2 separate regions of the Homo sapiens genome follow, and region 2 is linked to region 1. Evidence: fine-mapped QTL for protein levels in blood plasma. A gene starts in region 1. The other region holds a variant in brackets. All regions are shown on one strand. Distances are from middle to middle.

Region 1 (8,330 bases):
CAGCCCTGTCCAACAGAACCTTCTGTGATCATGGAAACATTCTGTGGCTGCCAATCTGGCAGCCACTCGCCACATGTGTCTATGAGCCTTGAAATGTGGCCATTGTGACTGAGAAACTGAACTTTTAATGGTATTTCATTTTTATTTTTATTTTTTTTTTATTTATTTTGAGGCAGAGTCTCACTCTGTCACCCGGGCTGGAGTGCAGTGGCACTCGGCTCACTGCAAGCTCCGCCTCCCGGGTTCACGCCATTCTCCTGCCTCAGCCTCGGGAGTACCTGGGACAACAGGCACCCGCCACCACGCCCGGCTAATTTTTTGTATTTTTAGTAGAGATGGGGTTTCACCATGGTCTCGATCTCCTGACCTCAGGTGATCCACCCGCTTCGGCCTCCCGAAGTGCTGGGACTGCAGGCATGAGCCACCACGCCCGGCCCAGAAAAGAGATGATTAAACATAAAGCAGCCATGTGATGAAATGGCACTTTGCCTCTGTGGTCTTCCTCCCCCAAACCCATAACTGTAATCTAATTATGAGAAAAACACAGGACAATTCCAATAGAGAGCCAGGTGCAGTGGTTCACGCCTGTAATCCCAGCACTTTGGGAGGCTGAGGCGGGCAGATCATGAGGTCAAGAAATCAAGACCATCCTGGCCAACATGGTGAAACCCCGTCTCTACTAAAAATACAAAAATTAGCTGGACGCAGTGGTGTGCACCTGTAGTCCCAGCTACTCGGGAGGCTGAGGCAGGAGAATCATTTGAACCCGGGAGGCAGAGGTTGCAGTGAGCTGAGATCGCGCCACTGCACTCCAGCCTGGTGACAGAGTGAGACTCCGTCTCAAAAATAAATAAAAATAAATAAATAAAAATTAGCTGGGCGTGGTGGCACGTGCCTGTAATCCCAGCTACTCAGAGGCTGAGGCACAAGAATCACTTGAACCTGGGAGACAGAGATTGCAGTGAGCCGAGATTGTGCCACTGCACTCCAGCCTGGGCGACAGAGTGAGACTACAACAAACACACACACACACACCCACACACACACACACACAAATTCCAAGAGAGGGTCATCCTGACCAATACTCCTCAAAACTATCAAGGTTGCTGGGCACAGTGGCTCACGCCTGTGATCCCAATGCTTTGGGAGGCTTAGATGGGAGGATCACTTGAGGCCAGGAGTTCAAGACCAGCCTGGGCAACATAGGGAGACGCCGTGTCTCCAAAAATTTTTTTGAGACAGAGTCTCGCTGTGTCGCCCAGGCCGGAGTACAGTGGCGTGATCTCGGCTCACTGCAAACTCTGCCTCCTGGGTTCACGCCATTCTTCTGCCTCAGCCTCCCAAGTTGCTGAGATTACAGGCACCCGCCACCATGCCCAGCTTATTTTTTGTATCTTTAGTAGAGACAAGGTTTCACTGTGTTAGCCAGGATGGTCTCCATCACCTGACCTCGTGATCCGCCTGCCTCGGTCTCCCCAAGTGCTGGGATTACAGGTATGAGCCACCGTGCCTGGCCCAAAAAATTTTTTTAAATTAGCCAGGTGTGGTGACACATGTCTGTAGTCCCCACTAATCGGGAGGCTAAGGTGGGAGGATTGCTTGAGCCCAGGAGGTTGAGGCTGCAGTGAACTATGATCGTGTCACTGCACATCAGTCTGGGAAACAGAGCGACACTTTGTCTCAAAAAAAAAAAACAGATAAATAAATTAAATAACCAGGCCCTCCTTATCCCACAGGGTTGTTGTAGAGGTGACATAGGAACAGAAGAGCACCAAGTTAACCAATTATAAATCTATATAGAGAGAAGCAGATCAGAGGCCAGGCACAGTGGCTCATGCCTATAATCCCAGCATTTTGGGAGGCTGAGGAGTGGATCACCTGAGGTCAAGAGTTTGAGACCAGCCTGACCAACATGGTGAAACCTTGTCTCTACTAAAAATACAAAAATTATCCAGGCATGCTGGCAGGCGCCTGTAATTCCCAGCTACACGAGAGGCTGAGGCAGGAGAATCGCTTGAACCTGGGAGGCGGAGGTTGCAGTAAGCCGAGATCGTGCCATTGCACTCCAGCCTGGGCGACAAGAGCGAAACTCTGTCTCAAAAAAAAAAGAGAGAGAGAGAGAGAAGCAGATTAGCAGTTACCAGGGGCTGAGGGAGTGTGACTGCTAATGGGTACAGGGTTTCCTTCTGGAGTGATAAAAATGTTCTGGAACCCCATAGAGGTGATGGTTGCACAACACTGTGAAGGTACTAAATGCCCCCGAATTGTTTACTTAAACGTGGTTAATGTTATGTGAATTTCAGCTAAACAATGTTATGTAGATATTTGGCCGGGCGCGGTGGCTCACGCCTGTAATCCCAGCATTTTGGGAGGCCGAGGCAGGTGGATCACGAGGTCAGGAGATCGAGACCATCCTGGCTAATGCGGTGAAACCCCATCTCTACTAAAAATACAAAAAAAAAAATTAACCGGGCGTGGTGGTGGGTGCCTGTAGTCCCAGCTACTTGGGAGGCTGAGGCAGGAGAATGGCATGAACCTGGGAGGCAGAGCTTGCAGTGAGCCAAGATCGCGCCATTGCACTCCAGCCTAGGCAACAGAGCAAGACTCCGTCTCAAAAAATATATATAAATAAATAGATATGTGATGTGACAGGTTTTTTTTTGAGATGGAGTTTTGCTCTTGTTCCCTAGGCTGGAGTGCAATGGCGTGATCTCAGCTCACCGCAACCTCCGCCTCCAGGGTTCAAGCCATTCTCCTGCCTCGGCCTCCGGAGTAGCTGGGATTACAGGCATAAGCCACCATGCCTGGCTAATTTTGTGTTTTTAGTAGAGACAGGGTTATTCCATGTTGGTCAGGCTGGTCTCGAACTCTCCACCTCAGGTGATCTGCCAGCCTCAGCCTCCCAAAGTGCTGGGATTACAGGCATGAGCCACCGTGCCTGGCCTCTGATATGACAGTTCTAATGCCCTTTAGTATTCTATAATTCAGACTCAGGCCTTTGGAATCCAAAGCCCAGGTTTTTCTCACAAACCCACACTGCAGAGCGGAGTGGTGGAAAAAAATAAAACCTCTGCCTTGGAATCAGACAGATCTAAACTGGAGCCCTATTTTGTCATTTGCCAACTGTGTGACCTTGGGCAAGTTACCGCAACTCTCTGAACCTGTCTCTTTATCTGCAAGGTGCACGACTGATGGGACTATTCAACCAGACCCAGTGCACAGATTCAGGCACTTGATAAGACATTGAGGCTGCAGGCAGCGATCTTTTTTCTTTCTTTCTTTTTTTTTTTTTTTTTTTGAAATAGGGTCTCACTCTGCTGCAGAGGCTCAATCACTGTTCATTGCAGCCTTGACCTCCCTGGCTCAAGAGATCCTCCCATCTCAGCCTCCTGAGTTGCTGGGATCACAGGTGCAATCCACCACCACACCTGGTTAACATTTTTTTTTTTAGAGATGAGGTCTCTCTATGTTGCCCAGGCTGCACTTCCTTCTTGTCTCCCTTATCCCAGCGTCCGACTGAACTGACGGCTTTGCTTTCCCCAACCAGCCCGTGAAGCTGGGCTGAGTACAAAGTGGTGGGTATGAGGGTCAAGATTGTAAGATCTGAAAACTCCAGAAACCATCCCTTTGGTTAACAGTTGCTAAGGACAAATGCATAACATATTTTCCAGTGATCCCATGCTGGCAAATCGTCAGGGTCATTCCTGCAACAGACAGATTCAAGGCCAGCCCCAAACTCAGCCAAGAGCAAAGCAAACACTCCAGCCTTATCTGGGCAGGGTTGTGTGGAGACTGACTATAAGACTATACCTGAGACTGGTCATCTCAGTTCTTTTCTCACCTTGACTGCAAGATGAAACTCCTTGTGCTAGCTGTGCTGCTCACAGGTAGGCAAGTCTCCCCGGCTCCACCCGCCTTTCTCTCCCAAGTGAGCTAAGATCTCACTCCTCTGGAATGGGGGCCACAGGCCACAGCAAACAGGGATGGCCAGCCCCGCAGTCTCAATTCGAGGTTCCCAGTGGGGCTTAAGGGCTCCTCTATTGGGGTTCCCTCAAGGCTGGCACTTTTTCAACCTGCAAGTCTGAACTCAGATTGCCTGAGCTAAGAAAGCTTGCCTTTATTTTCTTTTTTCCAGACAGGGTCTTGCTCTATCACCCAGGCTGGAGTTCAGTGGCATGATCATAGCTCACCACAGCTTCCAACTCGTGGGCTCAAGTGATCCTCCCACCTTACTCAACTAAGTAGTTAGGCCAATCTCCCATTTATTTTATTTTATTTTAATTTTTATTTTTATTTTACTTTATTTTATTTTTGAGACGGGGCTCACTCTGTCGCCCAGGCTGGAGTGCGGTGGCGTGATCTCAGATCACTACAACCTCCATCTCCTGGGTTCAAATAATTCTCTTGCCTCAGCCTCTCAAGTAGCTGGGACTTGTAGCTCTCAAGTAGCTGGCACACACCACCATGCCCAGCTAATTTTTTGTGTGTTTTTTTTGGTAGAGACAGGTTTTCACCATGTTGGCCAGGCTGGGTGACCTCCCTTTTAGATTCTCCTCATCCTGCTCTATTCTTCCCCTTTCTAATGCAGTATCCAGTTTCCTTACTTATCACATTTATTATTATTCTTATTATTATTGAGACAGAGTCTTGCTTTGTCGCCAAGGCTGGAGTACAGTGGTGCGATCTCGGCTCACTGCAAGCTCCACCTGCTGGGTTCACGCCATTCTCCCGCCTCAGCCTCCCCAGTAGCTGGGACTAAAGGCGCCTGCCACCACGCCCCGCTAATTTTTTTGTATTTTTAATAAAGACGGGGTTTCATCGTGTTAGCCAGGATGGTCTCGATCTCATGACCTTGTGATCCGCCTGCCTCGGCCTCCCAAAGTGCTGGGATTACAGGCATGAGCCACCGTGCCCGGCCTTATCACATTTATTATTTATTGTTTTTCTCTCCCACTAGGTTGTAAGCTCCATGAGGTTAGAGATTATTATTATTATTATTATTATTATTATTATTATTATTATTATTATATCTGTTCACTGCTGTATCTCTAGCTCCTAGGACAGAGCCTGGCACATAGTAAGTGCTCAATAAATATTCACTGGATAAACAGTGCAGATAGTTTAAAACTATCTGACCTAGGGAGGCTGAGGCAGGAGAATGGCGTGAACCCGGGAAGCAGAGTTTGCAGTGAGCTGAAATCGTGTCACTGCACTCCAACCTGGGCAACAGAGCAAGACTCCATCTCAAAAAAAAAAAAAAAACTATCAGGCCTAGCTGGGTGGCACATGCCTGTAATCCTAGCTGAGGCGGTAGGGTCCCAGAAGAAGAAGAAGAAGAAAAAGAAGAAGATATATATATATATACACACACACAAAGATATAAACTTTATATATATAAAGTTTTCATTAAAAAAAAAAAAAAACCTCTACCCACTTTCACTTTACCAGGTTCCTGGGTCCAACGGTCTTCAGAGGAGGCAGCTGGCAGGGGTCAGGGAGGCAGCGTGGGACCCGAGGGAGCAGGAAGGCAGTGTGTCCCCGGGGTGCTGGCAGACCGATTTGAACTCTGGCTATGTCTTCTTGCAGTGGCCGCCGCCGACAGCGGCATCAGCCCTCGGGCCGTGTGGCAGTTCCGCAAAATGATCAAGTGCGTGATCCCGGGGAGTGACCCCTTCTTGGAATACAACAACTACGGCTGCTACTGTGGCTTGGGGGGCTCAGGCACCCCCGTGGATGAACTGGACAAGTAAGTGATCCGCCTGCAGGAAAATTGGAGTGCCTGCCGGGGGCGGGGTGGGGCACACGCCAAGGATCTCACGAGGCATACAAAGGGGACTTGCATATCTGCTAAGGATAACATATTTTCACCTCTTGTCAAATAAACAAATATGTTCCAAGAGGACCCTGTAGCGAACGCACCCCGTTAGAGATGGAAACAATGACCGACGTGCAAAACAGTGGGCGATGCTGCCCTCCAGTGGCAGAATGTAGCAACAGTAAACATCACAGCAACTATCCACGTGTCATTTTCTAGCAGTGGTTGTCACTGCACCTTCTGAATACAGGATTTTACTGTATTCTTGCAACCATGTTAAAAATCGCTTTCAGGCCAGGCGCGGTGGCTCATGCCTGTAATCCCAGCACTTTGGGAGGCCGAGGCGGGCGGATCACTTGAGGTCAGGAGTTCGAGACCAGCCTGGCCAACATGGTGAAACCCTGTCTCTACTAAAAAATACAAAAATTAGCCGGACATGGTGGCGAGCGCCTGTAACCCCAGCTACTTGGGAGACTGAGTTGGAGGTTTCAGTGAGCCAAGGTCGTGTCACTGCTGTCCAGCCTGGGTAACAGAGCAACTCTGTCTCAAAAAAAAAAAATGCTTTCAATAAATATATGATAAAAGGACTTATATTTTTTCAAGCCATAGGATCATTTCTCCTGAAGCATCTTGGCGAAGTCATCCCCACCTGTTCCTGAGAGTGGGCAGGTGAGGGCTGACCTATTGCTCTGCACTTACTCCTATCTCAGCTGTCCCTCCCACTTTCCAGGTGCTGCCAGACACATGACAACTGCTATGACCAGGCCAAGAAGCTGGACAGCTGTAAATTTCTGCTGGACAACCCGTACACCCACACCTATTCATACTCGTGCTCTGGCTCGGCAATCACCTGTAGCAGTAGGTTTATCCCTTCCTTGACCTATGAATTCTAGTTGGTTCTCAGTAGGCCGGGGGGAAATAATAGTAACAACAGCCATGATTTAGTGTTAATTTTCTTGGTTCTGGGCAGTGTCTCCTTTAATCCTCAGAACAACACTATGGGATAGGTACAATTATCCTCACTTAACAGATAAGAAAACTGAGGCTCAGAAGGCTGAGCTATTTGCCCAAGATCACACAGCTTGTAAGTGGTGACAGTTTGGGTTTTTTTTTGTTGTTGTTTAGAGACAGGGTCTTGCTCTGTCACCCAGGCATGAGCACAGTGGTGCAACCATAGGTCACTGCAGCCTCAACCTCCTGAGCTCAAGGGATCTGCTGACCTCAGCCTCCCAAGTAGCTGGGACTACGAGCGTGCACCACCACGCCTGGCTAATTAAAAAAATTTTTTTGTAGAGACTGGGTCTTACTACGTTGGCCAGGCTTGTCTTAAACTCCTGGCTTCAAGCAATCCTCCTACCTTGGCATCCCAAAGTGCTGGGATTACAGGGGTGAGCCACCATGTGCGGCTACTTATTTCTTTACATTCCATCTTTCCAATAGAATGTAAGATCCACAGAACAGGGATTACTGCCTATTTTCTTCCTTTCTTTTTTGAGACAGAGTCTCACTTCATCACCTCAACCTCCGTTCAGCTCACTGCAACCTCTGCCTCCCGGGTTCAAGCGATTCTCCTGCCTAAGCCTCCTGAGTAGCTGGAATTACAAGCGTGCACCACCATGCTTGGCTAATTTTTTGTATTTTTAGCAGAGATGGGGTTTTACCATGTTGCCCAGGCTGGTCTCAAACTCCTGACCTCAAGTGATCTGCCTGCCTCAGTCTCCCAAAGTGCTGGAATTATAGGCGTGAGTCACTGTGCCTGGCCGATTACTGTCTATTTTCTTTATTGCTATATCCCCAGATCTAGAGCAGTGTCTGACATATAGTAGGTGCTCAATAAATAATTGATGAATGCACAGCCTAGATATAAACTTTCTTTTTCTTTTTTTAAAACAATCTTGACAACTTTGCAGAATAAATACAATCTTGCATTCTGCTTTTTCACTTATCACCTTGTTATGACTTTTTCATATTGCCTCAAACCTTTATTGTTACTGTTTTTTCATTGTTACTATTTTAGTCACTGAATAATATGGCTTAATTTGCTTATACATCCTCCTGCTCCACTTTAGAAGGCCAAATTTACAAATCTGATGAAAGCTATGAACCCTCTCCCCAGAGAAATACACACACACACACACACTCACACACAGTTTTTTTTTAATGTTTGCAACTAAGACAAGAAACCTGCATTAGAGGATGTTTGTTCATATTAATTAAAAATAACTCAGTTGGGCACAGTGACTCAAGCCTGTAACCACAGTACTTTGGAAGTCCAAGGTGGGTGGATCACTTGAGGTGAGAAGTTCGAGACCAGCCTGGTCAATATGGTGAAACCCTATCTCTACTAAAAATACAAAAATTAGCTGGGTGTAGTGATGCATGCCTGTAGTCCCAGCTACTCGGGAGGCTGAGGCAAGAGAATTGCTTGAACCTGGGAGGCAGAGGTTGCAGTGAGCCGAGATCCCACCACTGCACTCCAGCCTGGGCGACACAGCGAGACTCTATCTCAAAAAAA
Region 2 (8,330 bases), 19 kb after region 1:
CTTCCATCGCTGCTTTCTTTCCCTAACACACAATCCCCACCCCATTTTAGCCATACTTTCTATTTTATTTTTTTTATTTTTGGAGACAGGGTCTGGCTGTTGCCCAGGCTGGAATGCAGTGGCACGATCTCAGCTCACTGCAGCCTCAACCTCCTGGGCTCAGGTTATCCTCCCACCTCATCCTCCTGAGTGGCAGGGACTGCACTACAAACACGCGCCATCTCGCCCAGCTAATTTTTGTAGTTTTGGTAGAGACGGTGTTTCACTGTGTCGCCCAGGCTGGTCTCAAACTCCTGGCCTCAAGTGATCCTCCCTCCTTGGCCTCCCAAAGTGCTGGGATTACAGGTGTGAGCCACTGCGCCCAGCCCATCAATTTCCTTCCTATACACTCCTTCCTAACCTTCTGCTATAGCTCACTTTTATCCTTAACATGACTGCAAATGCCTTGCCTGCTGATTTCCTTAATGCCCAAACCTGCGTTTTTCCCTCTATACTTTCCCTTGCTCATCTGCTGAATTTGCCACTGTCTATTACCATTCCTTCTAAAATGCTTCTCCTTCTTGGTTTCCAGGACACAGTGTCTCCTGGTTCTCTTCTCACCTCTTTTTTTTTTTTTTTTTTTTTTTTTTTTTGAGAGCAAGTTTCACTCTCATTGCCCAGGTTGGAGTGCAATGGCATGATCTTGGCTCACCGCAACCTCCACCTCCTGGTCTCAAGCGATTCTCCTGCCTCAGCCTCCTGAGTAGCCGGGATTACAGGCAGGCTCTACCACACCCGACTAATTTTTTTTGTATTTTTAGTAGAGACGGGGTTTCTCCATGTTGGTAAGGCTGGTCTCAAACTCCCGACCTCAGGTGATCCGCCTGCCTTGGCCTCCCAAAGTGCTGGGATTACAGGTGTGAGCCACTGCACCTGGCCCCCCTTCTCACCTCTCCAATCACCAGAGCTTGAGCCAGTGAGGGAGAGCACTTTGTGTCTGTTTTTATTTTTTTATTTTATTTTTTATTTTTTTGAGACGGAGTTTCACTCTTGTTGCCCAGGCTGGAGTGCAATGGCGCGATCTTGGCTCACCGCAACCTCTGCCTCCCAGGTTCAAGCAATTCTCCTGCCTCAGCCTCCCGAGTAGCTGGGATTACAGGCATGCACCACCACGCCCGGCTAATTTTGTATTTTTAGTAGAGACGGGGTTTCTCCATGTTGAGGCTGGTCTCGAACTCTTGACCTCAGGTGGTCTGCCCGCCTTGGCCTCCCAAAATGCTGGGATTACAGGCATGAGCCACTGCGCCCGGCCTATTTTTTTTTTTTTTTTTTTTTTTTTTAAGAGACAGGGTCAGGCTGGGCGTGGTGGCTCACGCCTGTAATCCCAACACTTTGGGAGGCCGAGGCGGGCGGATCACGAGGTCAGGAGATCGAGACCATCCTGGCTAACACGGTGAAACCCCATCTCTACTAAAAATACAAAAAATTAGCCGGCCGTGGTGGCGGGCGCCTGTAGTCCCAGCTACTCGGGAGGCTGAGGCAGGAGAATGGCGTGAACCCGGGAGGCGGAGCTTGCAGTGAGCCGAGATAGCACCACTGCACTCCA[G/A]CCTGGGCAACGAGCGAGACTCCGTCTCAAAAAAAAAAAAGAGACAGGGTCTTGGCCAGGCGTGGTGGCTCTTACCTGGAGTGCAGTGGCATGATCATAGCTCACTGCAGCCTCGAACTCCTAGGCTCAAGCAATCCTCCTGCCTTAGTCTTCCAAAGTGCTGGGACTACAGGTGTGAGCCACCACAACCAGCCTCATTTTTCTCCTTTTAGTTCTAGTCAGCCATCAGATTATGTTGATTTTCTTCTCTTAAAAGAACCCCTGTGGCCAGGCATGGTGGCTCACACCTTGTAATCCCAGCACTTTGGGAGCGTAAAGCAAGAGAATCGCTTGAGCTCAGGAGTTCCAGACCAGTCTGGGTAGACAGCAAGACGCTCTCTCTACAAAAAAAATTTTTTTGGCTTGTCTTTGTTTTTTGAGACGGGGTCTTGCTCTGTCGCCCAGGCTGGAGTGCAATGGCGCGATCTCGGCTCACTGCAACCTCCGCCTCCTGGGCTTAAGCGATTCTCCTGCCTCAGCCTCCCGAGCAGCTGGGATTACAGGCGCCTGCCACCACGCCCAGCTAATTTTTGTGATCTGCCCACCTCGGCCTCCCAAAGTGCTGAGACTACAGACGTGAGCCACCACGCCTAGCCAAAAAAAATTTTTTAATTAGCTGGAGTTCTAATTACCCAGGAGTTCTAGGTTACAGGGAGTTATGATGGCACCATTGCACTCTAGCCTGGGTGTCAGAACCAGACCCTGTCTAAAAAAGAAAAAAAGGCCAGGCCGGGCACGGTGACTCACACCTGTAATCCCAGCAATTTGGGAGGCCAAGATGGGTGGATCAGTTGAGGTCAGGAGTTTGAGACCCGCCTGGCCAACATGGTGATACCCTGTCTCTACAAAAATACAAAAAAATTAGCCGGGTGTGGTGGTGCACACCTGTAATTCCAGCTACTCAGGAGGTTGAGACAGGAGAATTGCTTGAACCCAGGATGTAGAGGTTACAGTGAGCCAAGATCATGCCATTGTACTCCAGCCTAGGTGACAGAGCAAGACTTCATCTCAAAAAAAAAAAAAAAAAAAGAAAGCGGGCACAGTGGCTCATGCCTGTAATCCCAGCACTTTGGGAGGCCAAGGCAGGCAGATCACCTGAGGTCAGGAGTTTGAGACCAGCCTGGCCCAACACGGTGAAACCCAGTCTCTACCAAAAATACAAAAATTAGCCGGGCATGGTGGTGCATGCCTGTAATCCCAGCTACTCAGGAGGCTGAGGCAGGAGAATCGGTTGAACCCGGGAGGTGGAGGTTGCAGTGAGCCAAGATCTCACCACTGCTCTCCAGCCTAGGCGACAGAGTGAGACTCTGTCTCAAAAAAAAAAAAAAAAGAAAAGAAAAAAAGGCCCCTGTGAAATGTCAAGAAGTCCTGGATTGTTTTAAAATGCTTAAGAAGAGACAGAATGGATAAAGTAGACATGACAAAATCTTGATAAAACCTTGGAATCTGGGTGATGGTATATGAGAATTCATTATACAATTCTCTTTACTTTTGTGAAGTTTGAAATTTTCATTATTAAAAGAACAGATTTTCTTCATGAAAAAAATTGTGAGTTTTTTTTGAGACAGAGTTTCACTCTTGTCGCCCAGGCTGGAGGGCAATGGCACAACAGTCTTGGCTCACCGCAACCTCCGCCTCCCAGGTTCAAGCGATTCTCCTGCCTCAGCCTCCCGAGTAGCTGGGATTACAGGCATGTGCCACCATGCCCGGCTAATTTTTTGTTGTTCTTGTACTTTTAGTAGTGACAGGGTTTCTCCATGTTGGTCAGGCTGGTCTTGACTCCCGACCTCAGGTTATCCACCCGCTTCGGCATCCCAAAGTGCTGAGATGACAGGCATGAGCCACCACGCCCGGCGGAAAAAATTGTTTTAATGAATCCATAAGCATCATTAACTCAAATTCCCTGGATACCACCTTAGTCTAGGTCTTTCAGGCTGACCTCCCTGACCTGCTCTTTTTAATCCTGTTTAGCCTTCCTCAAATGCTATTTTTATCATGTTGCTTGCTTGCTCAGAAACCACTAATAAACCCCTTTGGTGTCTCACAGCAGACCCAACTGCACTGCCTGATTTTCAAATGTAACCATGATTTGGGCCTAACTTTCCCAGACAATCTGGTTTCTGCAAGTCCCAGGTCCAAACCTCTACAGAGGCCAGGCCAGACTCCTCTGGGATCTACAACTTCCCTTCATTTGGAAAGCCCTGTTTCCCGCTCTTGCCTAGACAAACCTGAGCCAATCTCAAGCCCCCTGTACCCATAAAAGCTTTCTTGGGGCAGGCGCTGTGGCTCACGCCTGTAATCCCAGCGCTTTGGGAGGCCGAGGCAGGCGGATCACGAGGTCAGGAGTGAGTTCGAGACCAGCCTGGCCAACATGATGAAACCCTACCTCTACTACAAATACAAAAAATTAGCTGGGGGTGGTGGCAGGCACCTGTAATCCCAACTACTTGGGAGGCTGAGGCAGGAGAATCACTTGAACCCAGGAGGCGGAGGTTGCAGTGAGCCGAGACCGTGCCACTGCACTCCAGCCTGGGCAACAAGAACAAGACTGTGTTTCAAAAAAAAAAAAAAAAAAAAAGCTTTCTTGGGCCAGGCATGGTGGCTCACACCTGTAATCCCAACACTTTGGAAGATCAAGGCAGGAGGAGGGCTTGAGCTTAGGAGTTCGAGACCAGACTAGGCAACACAGCAAGATCCTGTCTCTATTTAAAAAAAAAAATTTTTTTTTTAAAAAGCTTTCTCAACTGATTATTCCAATCTTTACTAAATCTGTTTATTTGAACATGCACAGCATATAAATCAAGAACCACACAATTTCACAATCATGCGTTGTCATTTATCATTAATTATGTGCTTTTCTTTGTTTGTTTGCTTGGTTGTTTTTTGAGAAGGAGTTTCGTTCTTGTTGCCCAGGCTGGAGTGCAATGGTGCGATTTCAGCTCATTACAACCTCTGCCTCCCGGGTTCAAATGATTCTCCTGTCTCAGCCTCCTGAGTAGCTGGGATTATAGGCATGCACCACCATGCCTGGCTAATTTTGTATTTTTAGTAGAGACAGGGTTTCACTGTGTTGGTCAGGCTGGTCTTGAACTCCTGACCTCAGGTGATCCCCTGCCTCGGCCTCCCAAAGTGCTCGGATTACAGGCGTGAGCCACCGTGCCCGGCCAATTATGTTATTTTTGTGTCTTCCCAAATATTACAAAGTTCTTGCATATAAAGTGGGCCATGTTTTATACTTTGGTTTTTGTTTGTTGTTTGAGACAATCTCCCTCTGTCGCCCAGGCTGGAGTGCAATGGCACGATCTTGGCTCACTGCAACCTCTGCCACCCATGTTCATGCAATTCTCCTGCCTCAGCCTCCCGAGTAGCTGGGACTATAGGCGCCCGCCACCACGCCTGGCCAATCTTTTATTTTTAGTAGAGACTGGGTTTCGACATATTGGCCAGGCTGGTCTCAAACTCCTGAGCTCAAGTGATCCGCCCCCTCAGCCTCTCAAAATGCTGGGATTATAGGTGTGAGCCACTGAGCCCAGCCTATACTTTGGTTCTGACCACTAAGAAGCACAGTAGTTAGTGTTATAATGTACTACATAGTGTAACGTATGTACACCATACATTCTAGGCACCCAGTAAATATTTCAGCATTGGCAGACTGACTTCAGCCCTCAGAGGAGCCTCTCTAGGGCTTAAAGAAATAAGTCTCCAATTAGCTACAATTATTGCCAGACCCATAAGCATGATACCCTCCCATGTATCTGTTCCCTCATTATTGATTGAGTTCTGACTACTGCCCGGCTACGTTATGGTCTATGTATCTAGCCATCCTAGGCATTGGAAACCCAGCAGTTTATAGCACATGCTATTGGTGTTCAGCTCATATTTTCCTCAGAACATGCTAAAGGCCACGTTCGAACAGTTTCCTTTCTTTTTGTTTTTTTATTGAGATAGAGTCTCACTCTGTTGTCCAGGCTGGAGTGCAGTGGCACAATCTTGGCTCACTGCAACCTCTGCCTCCCAGGTTCAGGCGACTCTCGTGCCTCAGCCTCCCAAATAGCTGAGACTACAGGCGTGCGCCACTATGCCCAGGTAATTTTTTGTATTTTTAGTAGAGATGGGGTTTCACCGTGTGGGCCAGGATGGTCTCGAACTCCTGACCTCAAGTGATCTGCCTGCCTCTGCCTCCCAAAGTGCTGGGATTACAAGCATGAGCCACCGCACCCGTCCCAGTTTCCTTTCTCTGTTTTTTTGTTTGTTTTTTTTTTTGACGGAGTTTTGTTCTTGTTGCCCAGGCTGCAGGCTGGAGTACAATGGCACAATCTCGGCTCACCGCAACCTCCGCCTCTTGGGTTCAAGCTATTCTCCTGTCTAAGCCTCCCGAGTCGCTAGGATTACAGGCATGCACCACCACGCCCAGCTAATTTTGTATTTTTAGTAGAGACAGGGTTTCTCCATGTTGGTCAGGCTGGTCTCGAACTCCTGACCTCAGGTGATCCGCCCAACTCAGCCTCCCAAAGTGCTGGGATTACAGGCGCGAGCCACCGTGCCCAGCCAATTTCCTTTCTTAAAAAAATTTTTTGTAGAGACGGAGTCTGGCTGTGTTACCCAGGCAGGTCTTGATCTCCTGGCCTCAAGTAATCCTCCTGCTTCAGCCTCCTGAGTTGCTGGGATGACAGATATGAACCACAGCACCCTGGTGGACACAATTTTCTTTCTTTCTTTTTTTTTTTTTTTTGAGACGGAGTCTCGCTCTGTCACCCAGGCTGGAGTGCAGTGGCGCGATCTCGGCTCACCACAAGCTCCACCTCCCAGGTTCACGCCATTCTCCTGCCTCAGCCTCCCGAGTAGCTGGGACTACAGGCGTCCGCCACCGCGCCCAGCTAATTTTTTGTATTTTTAGTAGAGACGGGGTTTCACCATGTTAGCCAGGATGGTCTCGATCAACTGACCTCGTGATCCGCCTGCCTCAGCCTCCCAAAGTGTTGGGATTACAGGCGTGAGCCGCCGCGCCCAGCCTACACAATTTTCTTACAAGCAGTTTCCTGTGTCTCTCTTGCCTCAGATGTTCTCTGCCCACGGAAGCCTCCTTGGGAGGAGCAGAGTCAAAATGTTAGGGAATTAATTCCCCTAGAGTGATCCTGGACCCATGAGGGATGAGAGATGGTGAATAAATACCCTAGCTTCAAGGCCAAGCACAGTGGCTCACACTAGTCATCCCAGCACTTTGAGATGCCAAGGCAGGAGGATCACATGAGCCCAGGAGTTCGAGACCAGCCTGGGCAACATAGTAAGACTTCGTCTCTACAAAAAATAAAAATTAAATTAAAAATTAGCTGGGCACGGTGGCGTTTGCCTGTAGTCCCAGCTACTTAGGAGGCTGGGGTGAAAGGATCACTTGAGCCCAAGAGATTGAGGCTGAAGTGAGCTATAATCACACCACCACATCCCAGTCTGTGTGACAGAGTGAAAGCCTGTCATACACACACACACACACACACACACACGTGCACACACAAACACAAAAGAAAATAAAAGAAAATCACCCTAGCTTGCTCAACTTTCTTTTTTTTTTTTCTTTTTGAGACGGAGTTTTGCTCTGTTGCCCAGGCTGGGGTGTGGTGGCATGATCTCAGCTCATGATCTCAGCTCACTGCAACCTCTACCTCCCAGGTTCAAGCGATTCTCCTGCCTCAGCCTCCTGAGTAGCTGGAATTACAGGTGCGTGCCACCACTTCCAACAGATTTTTGTATTTTTAGTAGAGACGGGGTTTCACCATGTTGACCAGATTGGTCTTGAACTCCTGACCTCAGGTAATCTGCCTGCCTTGGCCTCCCAAAGTGCTGGGATTACAGGCGTGAGCCACCACACCCGGCCTCAACTTTCTTTAAAAAAAAAAAAAAAAAAAAAAAATATATATATATATATATATATATATATATATAAAATTTACTTTACTTATATAGAGACAGAGTCTCACTGTGTTTGCCAGGTTGGTCCTGAACTGTTAGCCTCAAGCAATCTTCCTGCCTCAGCCTTCCAAAGTGCTAGGATTACAGGTATGAGCCACTGTGCACCATCCTCAACTTTTTTTTTTCTTTTTTTCTTTTTTTTTGCACTGTTGCCCAGGCTGGAGTGTAGTGGTGCAATCTCGGCTCACTGCAGCAACCTCTGCCTCCCAAGAGATTTTCCTGCCTCAGCCTCCCAAGCAGCTGGGATTACAGGCATGTGCCACCACGACTGGCTAATTTTTGTATTTTTAGTAGAAATGGGGTTTCACCATGTTGGCCAGGCTGGTCTCGAACTCCTGAGCTCATGTGATCTGCCCACCTCAGCCTCCCAAAATGCTGGGATTACAGGCGTGAGCCACTGCGCCCGGCCCCAGTCCTCAAGTTTCATTGAGACAATCCTCAGGCATGTCCTAGACAGTTGGAGGGTCCCTCACAGGACTGAACCCCAGTGCCCAAGGCAGTAACCCACTCATTAACACACACTTTCTTGGCTTTCCTCTCTTTCCTGTTTTACATCCTTGCTCCGTCAATGAATTTACTGGAATCAACTGCAAAATAAACAACTTGCTCTGAAATCCTTTTCTCAAGGTCTAAGACTGTGGTGATCAAGACAGCCAAGGTCCCTACTCTCCCAAAACAACACACGGGTTTGCGTTCAAACCGTGTACAGCTCCTGCACCTGTCCATGCATCCGTGGAGC

Alleles and levels. Positions count from the first base shown, and alleles are read on the strand shown. Strength reflects both the effect of a copy and how common the allele is.
With allele A in place of G in region 2, the plasma level of the protein whose gene starts at base 3,828 in region 1 is lower (weak association).

Evidence for each region. PIP is the chance, under the fine-mapping model, that this variant and not a neighbour inherited with it causes the effect. The UK Biobank Pharma Proteomics Project read protein levels with antibody pairs (Olink). The fine-mapping took linkage between variants from a reference panel, not from the people measured, so its PIPs are less certain.
Region 2: its variant is fine-mapped to the plasma level of the PLA2G1B protein (UK Biobank, PIP above 0.99).

The regions. Positions count from the first base shown.
Region 1 is chr12:120,323,277-120,331,606 of GRCh38, reverse strand. PLA2G1B (phospholipase A2 group IB) reads left to right here and starts at 3,828. Exons shown (of 4, transcript NM_000928.3): 1 at 3,828-3,887; 2 at 5,587-5,746; 3 at 6,546-6,673. The coding sequence starts at 3,854. RefSeq lists an enhancer at 5,872-5,931.
Region 2 is chr12:120,304,038-120,312,367 of GRCh38, reverse strand. It overlaps SIRT4 (sirtuin 4), which reads right to left. Exons shown (of 4, transcript NM_012240.3): 2 at 8,310-8,330. Among named protein-coding and RNA genes, the nearest start is that of SIRT4, 5.9 kb to the right of the region's middle. The variant G/A (reference allele first, on the strand shown) is at 1,586.